2 linked regions of the Homo sapiens genome follow. Each later gene encodes a partner of the first gene's protein in a complex. Each region holds a gene or a part of one and is shown in the gene's direction. Other genes may lie near its edges. The genes, in order: HBB and HP.

What was found.
Region 2: the proteins of HBB (region 1) and HP are in contact, whole or in part, in a crystal structure (PDB 6TB2), measured with the Homo sapiens proteins. Residues at the interface, in NP_000509.1 of Homo sapiens: Tyr36 (codon at 1,809), Pro37 (codon at 1,812), Trp38 (codon at 1,815), Arg41 (codon at 1,824), Glu44 (codon at 1,833), His98 (codon at 1,995), Val99 (codon at 1,998), Asp100 (codon at 2,001), Pro101 (codon at 2,004), Glu102 (codon at 2,007), Arg105 (codon at 2,016), Leu106 (codon at 2,869), Asn109 (codon at 2,878), Tyr146 (codon at 2,989); in NP_005134.1 of Homo sapiens: Gly164, Gly165, His166, Leu167, Ala169, Asn287, Ala288, Asn289, Lys291, Asp294, His295, Lys297, Tyr346, Gln347, Glu348.

The regions. Positions count from the first base shown.
Region 1 is NC_000011.10:5,224,995-5,228,594, reverse strand, and holds HBB (hemoglobin subunit beta), read left to right. Parts: upstream 1-1,523; 5' UTR 1,524-1,573; coding exon 1,574-1,665; intron 1,666-1,795; coding exon 1,796-2,018; intron 2,019-2,868; coding exon 2,869-2,997; 3' UTR 2,998-3,131; downstream 3,132-3,600. UniProt on the Homo sapiens protein: Involved in oxygen transport from the lung to the various peripheral tissues. LVV-hemorphin-7 potentiates the activity of bradykinin, causing a decrease in blood pressure.
Region 2 is NC_000016.10:72,052,645-72,056,776, forward strand, and holds the start of HP (haptoglobin isoform 1 preproprotein), read left to right. Parts: upstream 1-1,860; 5' UTR 1,861-2,008; coding exon 2,009-2,013; intron 2,014-3,516; coding exon 3,517-3,599; intron 3,600-3,885; coding exon 3,886-3,987; intron 3,988-4,132. UniProt on the Homo sapiens protein: As a result of hemolysis, hemoglobin is found to accumulate in the kidney and is secreted in the urine. Haptoglobin captures, and combines with free plasma hemoglobin to allow hepatic recycling of heme iron and to prevent kidney damage.

The DNA.
Region 1 (3,600 bases):
AAGAGAATAAAGCAATGGAAATAAGAAATTTGTAAATTTCCTTCTGATAACTAGAAATAGAGGATCCAGTTTCTTTTGGTTAACCTAAATTTTATTTCATTTTATTGTTTTATTTTATTTTATTTTATTTTATTTTGTGTAATCGTAGTTTCAGAGTGTTAGAGCTGAAAGGAAGAAGTAGGAGAAACATGCAAAGTAAAAGTATAACACTTTCCTTACTAAACCGACATGGGTTTCCAGGTAGGGGCAGGATTCAGGATGACTGACAGGGCCCTTAGGGAACACTGAGACCCTACGCTGACCTCATAAATGCTTGCTACCTTTGCTGTTTTAATTACATCTTTTAATAGCAGGAAGCAGAACTCTGCACTTCAAAAGTTTTTCCTCACCTGAGGAGTTAATTTAGTACAAGGGGAAAAAGTACAGGGGGATGGGAGAAAGGCGATCACGTTGGGAAGCTATAGAGAAAGAAGAGTAAATTTTAGTAAAGGAGGTTTAAACAAACAAAATATAAAGAGAAATAGGAACTTGAATCAAGGAAATGATTTTAAAACGCAGTATTCTTAGTGGACTAGAGGAAAAAAATAATCTGAGCCAAGTAGAAGACCTTTTCCCCTCCTACCCCTACTTTCTAAGTCACAGAGGCTTTTTGTTCCCCCAGACACTCTTGCAGATTAGTCCAGGCAGAAACAGTTAGATGTCCCCAGTTAACCTCCTATTTGACACCACTGATTACCCCATTGATAGTCACACTTTGGGTTGTAAGTGACTTTTTATTTATTTGTATTTTTGACTGCATTAAGAGGTCTCTAGTTTTTTATCTCTTGTTTCCCAAAACCTAATAAGTAACTAATGCACAGAGCACATTGATTTGTATTTATTCTATTTTTAGACATAATTTATTAGCATGCATGAGCAAATTAAGAAAAACAACAACAAATGAATGCATATATATGTATATGTATGTGTGTATATATACACACATATATATATATATTTTTTCTTTTCTTACCAGAAGGTTTTAATCCAAATAAGGAGAAGATATGCTTAGAACCGAGGTAGAGTTTTCATCCATTCTGTCCTGTAAGTATTTTGCATATTCTGGAGACGCAGGAAGAGATCCATCTACATATCCCAAAGCTGAATTATGGTAGACAAAACTCTTCCACTTTTAGTGCATCAACTTCTTATTTGTGTAATAAGAAAATTGGGAAAACGATCTTCAATATGCTTACCAAGCTGTGATTCCAAATATTACGTAAATACACTTGCAAAGGAGGATGTTTTTAGTAGCAATTTGTACTGATGGTATGGGGCCAAGAGATATATCTTAGAGGGAGGGCTGAGGGTTTGAAGTCCAACTCCTAAGCCAGTGCCAGAAGAGCCAAGGACAGGTACGGCTGTCATCACTTAGACCTCACCCTGTGGAGCCACACCCTAGGGTTGGCCAATCTACTCCCAGGAGCAGGGAGGGCAGGAGCCAGGGCTGGGCATAAAAGTCAGGGCAGAGCCATCTATTGCTTACATTTGCTTCTGACACAACTGTGTTCACTAGCAACCTCAAACAGACACCATGGTGCATCTGACTCCTGAGGAGAAGTCTGCCGTTACTGCCCTGTGGGGCAAGGTGAACGTGGATGAAGTTGGTGGTGAGGCCCTGGGCAGGTTGGTATCAAGGTTACAAGACAGGTTTAAGGAGACCAATAGAAACTGGGCATGTGGAGACAGAGAAGACTCTTGGGTTTCTGATAGGCACTGACTCTCTCTGCCTATTGGTCTATTTTCCCACCCTTAGGCTGCTGGTGGTCTACCCTTGGACCCAGAGGTTCTTTGAGTCCTTTGGGGATCTGTCCACTCCTGATGCTGTTATGGGCAACCCTAAGGTGAAGGCTCATGGCAAGAAAGTGCTCGGTGCCTTTAGTGATGGCCTGGCTCACCTGGACAACCTCAAGGGCACCTTTGCCACACTGAGTGAGCTGCACTGTGACAAGCTGCACGTGGATCCTGAGAACTTCAGGGTGAGTCTATGGGACGCTTGATGTTTTCTTTCCCCTTCTTTTCTATGGTTAAGTTCATGTCATAGGAAGGGGATAAGTAACAGGGTACAGTTTAGAATGGGAAACAGACGAATGATTGCATCAGTGTGGAAGTCTCAGGATCGTTTTAGTTTCTTTTATTTGCTGTTCATAACAATTGTTTTCTTTTGTTTAATTCTTGCTTTCTTTTTTTTTCTTCTCCGCAATTTTTACTATTATACTTAATGCCTTAACATTGTGTATAACAAAAGGAAATATCTCTGAGATACATTAAGTAACTTAAAAAAAAACTTTACACAGTCTGCCTAGTACATTACTATTTGGAATATATGTGTGCTTATTTGCATATTCATAATCTCCCTACTTTATTTTCTTTTATTTTTAATTGATACATAATCATTATACATATTTATGGGTTAAAGTGTAATGTTTTAATATGTGTACACATATTGACCAAATCAGGGTAATTTTGCATTTGTAATTTTAAAAAATGCTTTCTTCTTTTAATATACTTTTTTGTTTATCTTATTTCTAATACTTTCCCTAATCTCTTTCTTTCAGGGCAATAATGATACAATGTATCATGCCTCTTTGCACCATTCTAAAGAATAACAGTGATAATTTCTGGGTTAAGGCAATAGCAATATCTCTGCATATAAATATTTCTGCATATAAATTGTAACTGATGTAAGAGGTTTCATATTGCTAATAGCAGCTACAATCCAGCTACCATTCTGCTTTTATTTTATGGTTGGGATAAGGCTGGATTATTCTGAGTCCAAGCTAGGCCCTTTTGCTAATCATGTTCATACCTCTTATCTTCCTCCCACAGCTCCTGGGCAACGTGCTGGTCTGTGTGCTGGCCCATCACTTTGGCAAAGAATTCACCCCACCAGTGCAGGCTGCCTATCAGAAAGTGGTGGCTGGTGTGGCTAATGCCCTGGCCCACAAGTATCACTAAGCTCGCTTTCTTGCTGTCCAATTTCTATTAAAGGTTCCTTTGTTCCCTAAGTCCAACTACTAAACTGGGGGATATTATGAAGGGCCTTGAGCATCTGGATTCTGCCTAATAAAAAACATTTATTTTCATTGCAATGATGTATTTAAATTATTTCTGAATATTTTACTAAAAAGGGAATGTGGGAGGTCAGTGCATTTAAAACATAAAGAAATGAAGAGCTAGTTCAAACCTTGGGAAAATACACTATATCTTAAACTCCATGAAAGAAGGTGAGGCTGCAAACAGCTAATGCACATTGGCAACAGCCCCTGATGCATATGCCTTATTCATCCCTCAGAAAAGGATTCAAGTAGAGGCTTGATTTGGAGGTTAAAGTTTTGCTATGCTGTATTTTACATTACTTATTGTTTTAGCTGTCCTCATGAATGTCTTTTCACTACCCATTTGCTTATCCTGCATCTCTCAGCCTTGACTCCACTCAGTTCTCTTGCTTAGAGATACCACCTTTCCCCTGAAGTGTTCCTTCCATGTTTTACGGCGAGATGGTTTCTCCTCGCCTGGCCACTCAGCCTTAGTTGTCTCTGTTGTCTTATAGAGGTCTAC
Region 2 (4,132 bases), on another chromosome or scaffold:
AAATTTCCCTATTGACATTTTCCAATGGTGTTGAGTGACTTTTTTTTTTTTTTTTTTGACGACGTCTCGCTCTGTTGCCCAGGCTGGAGTGCAGTGGTGCGATCTCAGCTCACTGCAAACTCTGCCTCCCAGGTTCAAGCAATTCTCCTGTCTCAGCCTCCCAAGTAGTAGCTGGGACTGCAGATGCATGCCACCACGCCTGACTAATTTTTGCATTTTTAGAAAATATGGGGTTTCACCATATTCGTATTGGTTAGACTGGTCTCAAACTTCCGGCCTCAGGTGATCCACCCACCTCGGCCTCCCAAGGTGCTGGGATTACAGGTGTGAGTCACTCCCCAGCCTTGAGTATCTTTTATGTGCTTTTTGGCACTTTATGTATATTTTTTGGAGAAATGTCTATTTAAATCCTTTGCCCATGCTTTAATTGTTTGTCTTTTTGTTGTTGTAGTTAGGATATGCTCTGGATAACAACCCTTTATCAGATATAGAATTTGCAAATATTTTCTCCCATTCTGTAGACTGTCTTCACTTTTTTTTTTGAGACAGAGTCTTGTTCTGTCACCCAGGCTGGAGTGCAGTGGTGCGATCTAGGCTCACTGCAACCTCTGCCTCCCAGGTTCAAGCAATTCTCCTGCCTCAGCCTCCGAGTAGCTGGGATTAAAGCATGCGCCACCATGCCTGGCTAATTTTTGTATTTTTAGTAGAGATGGAATTTCACCACATTGGTCAGGCTGGTCTCAAACTCCTGACCTCATGATCCGCCCACCTCAGCCTCCCGAAGTGCTGGGATTACAGGCGTGAGCCACCACGCCTGGCCTGTCTTCATTTTATTAATACTGTCTTTTGATACACAAATGTTCATTCCGATGAAGCCCAATTTATCTAATTTTTCTTTGATTGCTGGTGATTTTGGTGTCATTATCTAAGAATCCATTGCCAAGTTTTACTTGGTTTTGATCTCTAGAAGACTGCCATCATACTGAAGGTAATCTTCTGAAACTTGCGGTTTTCTTTCAAAAATTATGTTTATAAGATGATCCATGTTCTTGCAGAGTTTATTCATTTTATGCTGTATAATATTCCATTATATCCACATACAATGCAGTATTGACCCTTCCTCCTGTTGATGGGCATTTGTCTTGTTTCTAGTTACTTTGCTATTATATCAGTGTCACCATGATTATCCAAAAGTAATTCTTTTGTACACTCTAATTTAAGAACAACTAACCCTTTTTAATGAATAAATCAACCTTGTATTGAGTTGCTACTAAGTTTCAGTTGACTAGTACCTGGGATACACACAGGTGCAGACATTTGACTGAGACATATTGATTTTTCTCATCTGCCTATTTAGGCTAATCACCAGACTATAAAACCATGAGAACCACTGCCATTGAGTATAGTCTGTGTCAGTCTACACTATAGCTTTAACTAGTTGTGTGATTTCTTGCAAAGAGCAATCAGAGAAGACACAATAAACACATTTACTGATTTCAGGCTGGAGAGCTTTTAAGCAATAGGGAGATGGCCACACACAAGGTGGAGAAAATTACTGTGAAAAGGAAGTACTTTCTTTAGAGCCCCACCTAAGCTAGGCTGCAGAAATGTCTACAATGGGTTTGAAAAAACTCAAAATGAGCCTTTCTGCAGTGTGAAAATCCTCCAAGATAAAGAGACAGATTGATGGTTCCTGCCGCCGCCCTGTCCTGCCCAGTTGCTGATTTCAGGAAATACTTTGGCAGGTTTGTGGGTCATAGAGTTGCCAGGTTTCTTGGGATTTGTAATAGAACATCACAAGAAAATCAAGTGTGAAGCAAGAGCTCAACTCTTAACAGGGGTATTGTTTGTGGTTTTGTTACTGGAAAAGATAGTGACCTTACCAGGGCCAAAGTTTGTAGACACAGGAATTACGAAATGGAGAAGGGGGAGAAGTGAGCTAGTGGCAGCATAAAAAGACCAGCAGATGCCCCACAGCACTGCTCTTCCAGAGGCAAGACCAACCAAGATGAGGTGGGTCCACAGCTTTCCCTCCTGCCTTTCCTCTGGTTCTTTATTTCAGTCTTTTTTGCATACATCGGTAGAGATGCAGAAATAGAACAAAGAAACGGGCAAATGGGCTAAATTATAGTGAACCAAAGGGCTTAGTGTGTTAAATCTTCTCCTTTTCTGCATCCATAGAAGACAGTGCTGCTGTCTTTCCCAGGAGATAAGATTTACTCTCAGGAGTGTCTTTTTCCTTCAGGTTACATTTTTGACTTTATAGGGTATGTCATCAGCTCCCGTGGTAGGCTTCCTGGCATCCTGAGTATATTTATTAGCAGATATTTTCCTCTTTAAAAATGTACAATAAGGAAGACTAATAGTAACACATTTGAATGACACAATTAATTGACTAGTACCTGGGATACACACTAATACCTGGGATACATCTAATTAAGGCACTTAGATCTTATAAAAATAAACACTTTTTGAAATGTTGAAATAATAAGACTAGAAACTTTTTTTTTTTTTGAGATGGAGTCTCGCTTTGTCACCAGGCTGCAGTGCAGTGGCATGATCTCGGCTCACTGCAACCTCCACCTCCCAGGTTCAAGTGATTCTCCTGCCTCAGCCTCCCAGGTAGCTGGGACTACAGGCGTGCGCCACTATGCCCACCTAATTTTTGTATTTTTAGTAGAGACGGGCTTTCACCATGTTGGCCAGGATGACCTCGATCTCTTGACCTCGTGATCTGCCTGCCTTGGCCTCCCAAAGTGCTGGGATTACAGGCATGAGCCACCGTGTCTGGCCTAGAAACTATTTTAATAGAAGCAAGTAGTGCCCGAATGGTTGGCATTTGTTAGTGAGATGGTGAACTGGCAGACGGCACCTGTGGGTCAATGCCCATGGCCACCGTCCTGCTTTTGGACACCAGTTCTCTTCCAGGTAACCTTCTGGCATTTTGGGGTTTCAGATACCATTTCCTAAAGGTGAATTATTATAAAATACTAGAAATACCCACGTGTTTAAAATTATATATTTAAGGAACCTTTTATTACGGAAAATATCAAGAAGTAGAGGAATAGCACAGTAAGCCCAAAGTTCCCATCTCTGAGTTATCTACATTTTATTACCACTATCTTTGCGGTGTCTGAGGGAGGTTTCTCTTTCCTGGAGGGCTCCTGTATTATTGCCAATGTACTTTCCTGAATGCAGCCAGAAACTGAGCCCACCCCTCCACCTATGTGCCTTTCTATCCCTCTCTGAAGCTTCTGCAGAATTCCCAGCAGGACAGGGCTTGCTGGAAGCTTGGTATGCTCAGAAGCTGCTAAAGTGTGTATGGGCAGGTGTGGGGGCAATTTCTTGGTCCTAGCACTTCCATATATCGACTTTCTTTTCTGGCTGCTAAGTGGGAGGAGTGTGTGTGTATGCATGTGTGTGTGTGTGTGTGTACATGCATGTGTGTGTGGATGCATGCATGTGCTGTGAAGCAGGGAGACTAGCTTTCCACTCCTCCTTGTCTTCTCTCTGCAGTGCCCTGGGAGCTGTCATTGCCCTCCTGCTCTGGGGACAGCTTTTTGCAGTGGACTCAGGCAATGATGTCACGGATATCGCAGGTCAGTCTTTGGTTGGGTAGGAGTGTGCATCCCACTCTGACCCTCTCGGGTCTGCACTCTCTCTGAGAACACCCAATTCCCCCTTCTTATCTCGACCTCTGGGCTTTCAGGACCATAAAGAACATTGGGGTTCCTGCCAGAAATGAGGGGAGCTTGCCTTTCCATTGGCTTCTATTCGGGGTGGAAGGAGATTGATGTGCAGAGCAGCTCCCGCTCATCTGACTTTTCACGGTTCACTGGGAACAATTTCCAAATAGCAAACTCTCTGGCTTCTCTCTCTTTGCAGATGACGGCTGCCCGAAGCCCCCCGAGATTGCACATGGCTATGTGGAGCACTCGGTTCGCTACCAGTGTAAGAACTACTACAAACTGCGCACAGAAGGAGATGGTAAGATGTGGACAACTGTCTCCATGCCCTACATACAACCCCCTTCTCTGACATTTCCATGATGGGTGGTGCTGAGGTGATTCGCCAGAAAGTTCGTTGCTCTCCTTGGAGCCAGGAGATTTAGATTCTAATAAGCGTTTTGTCG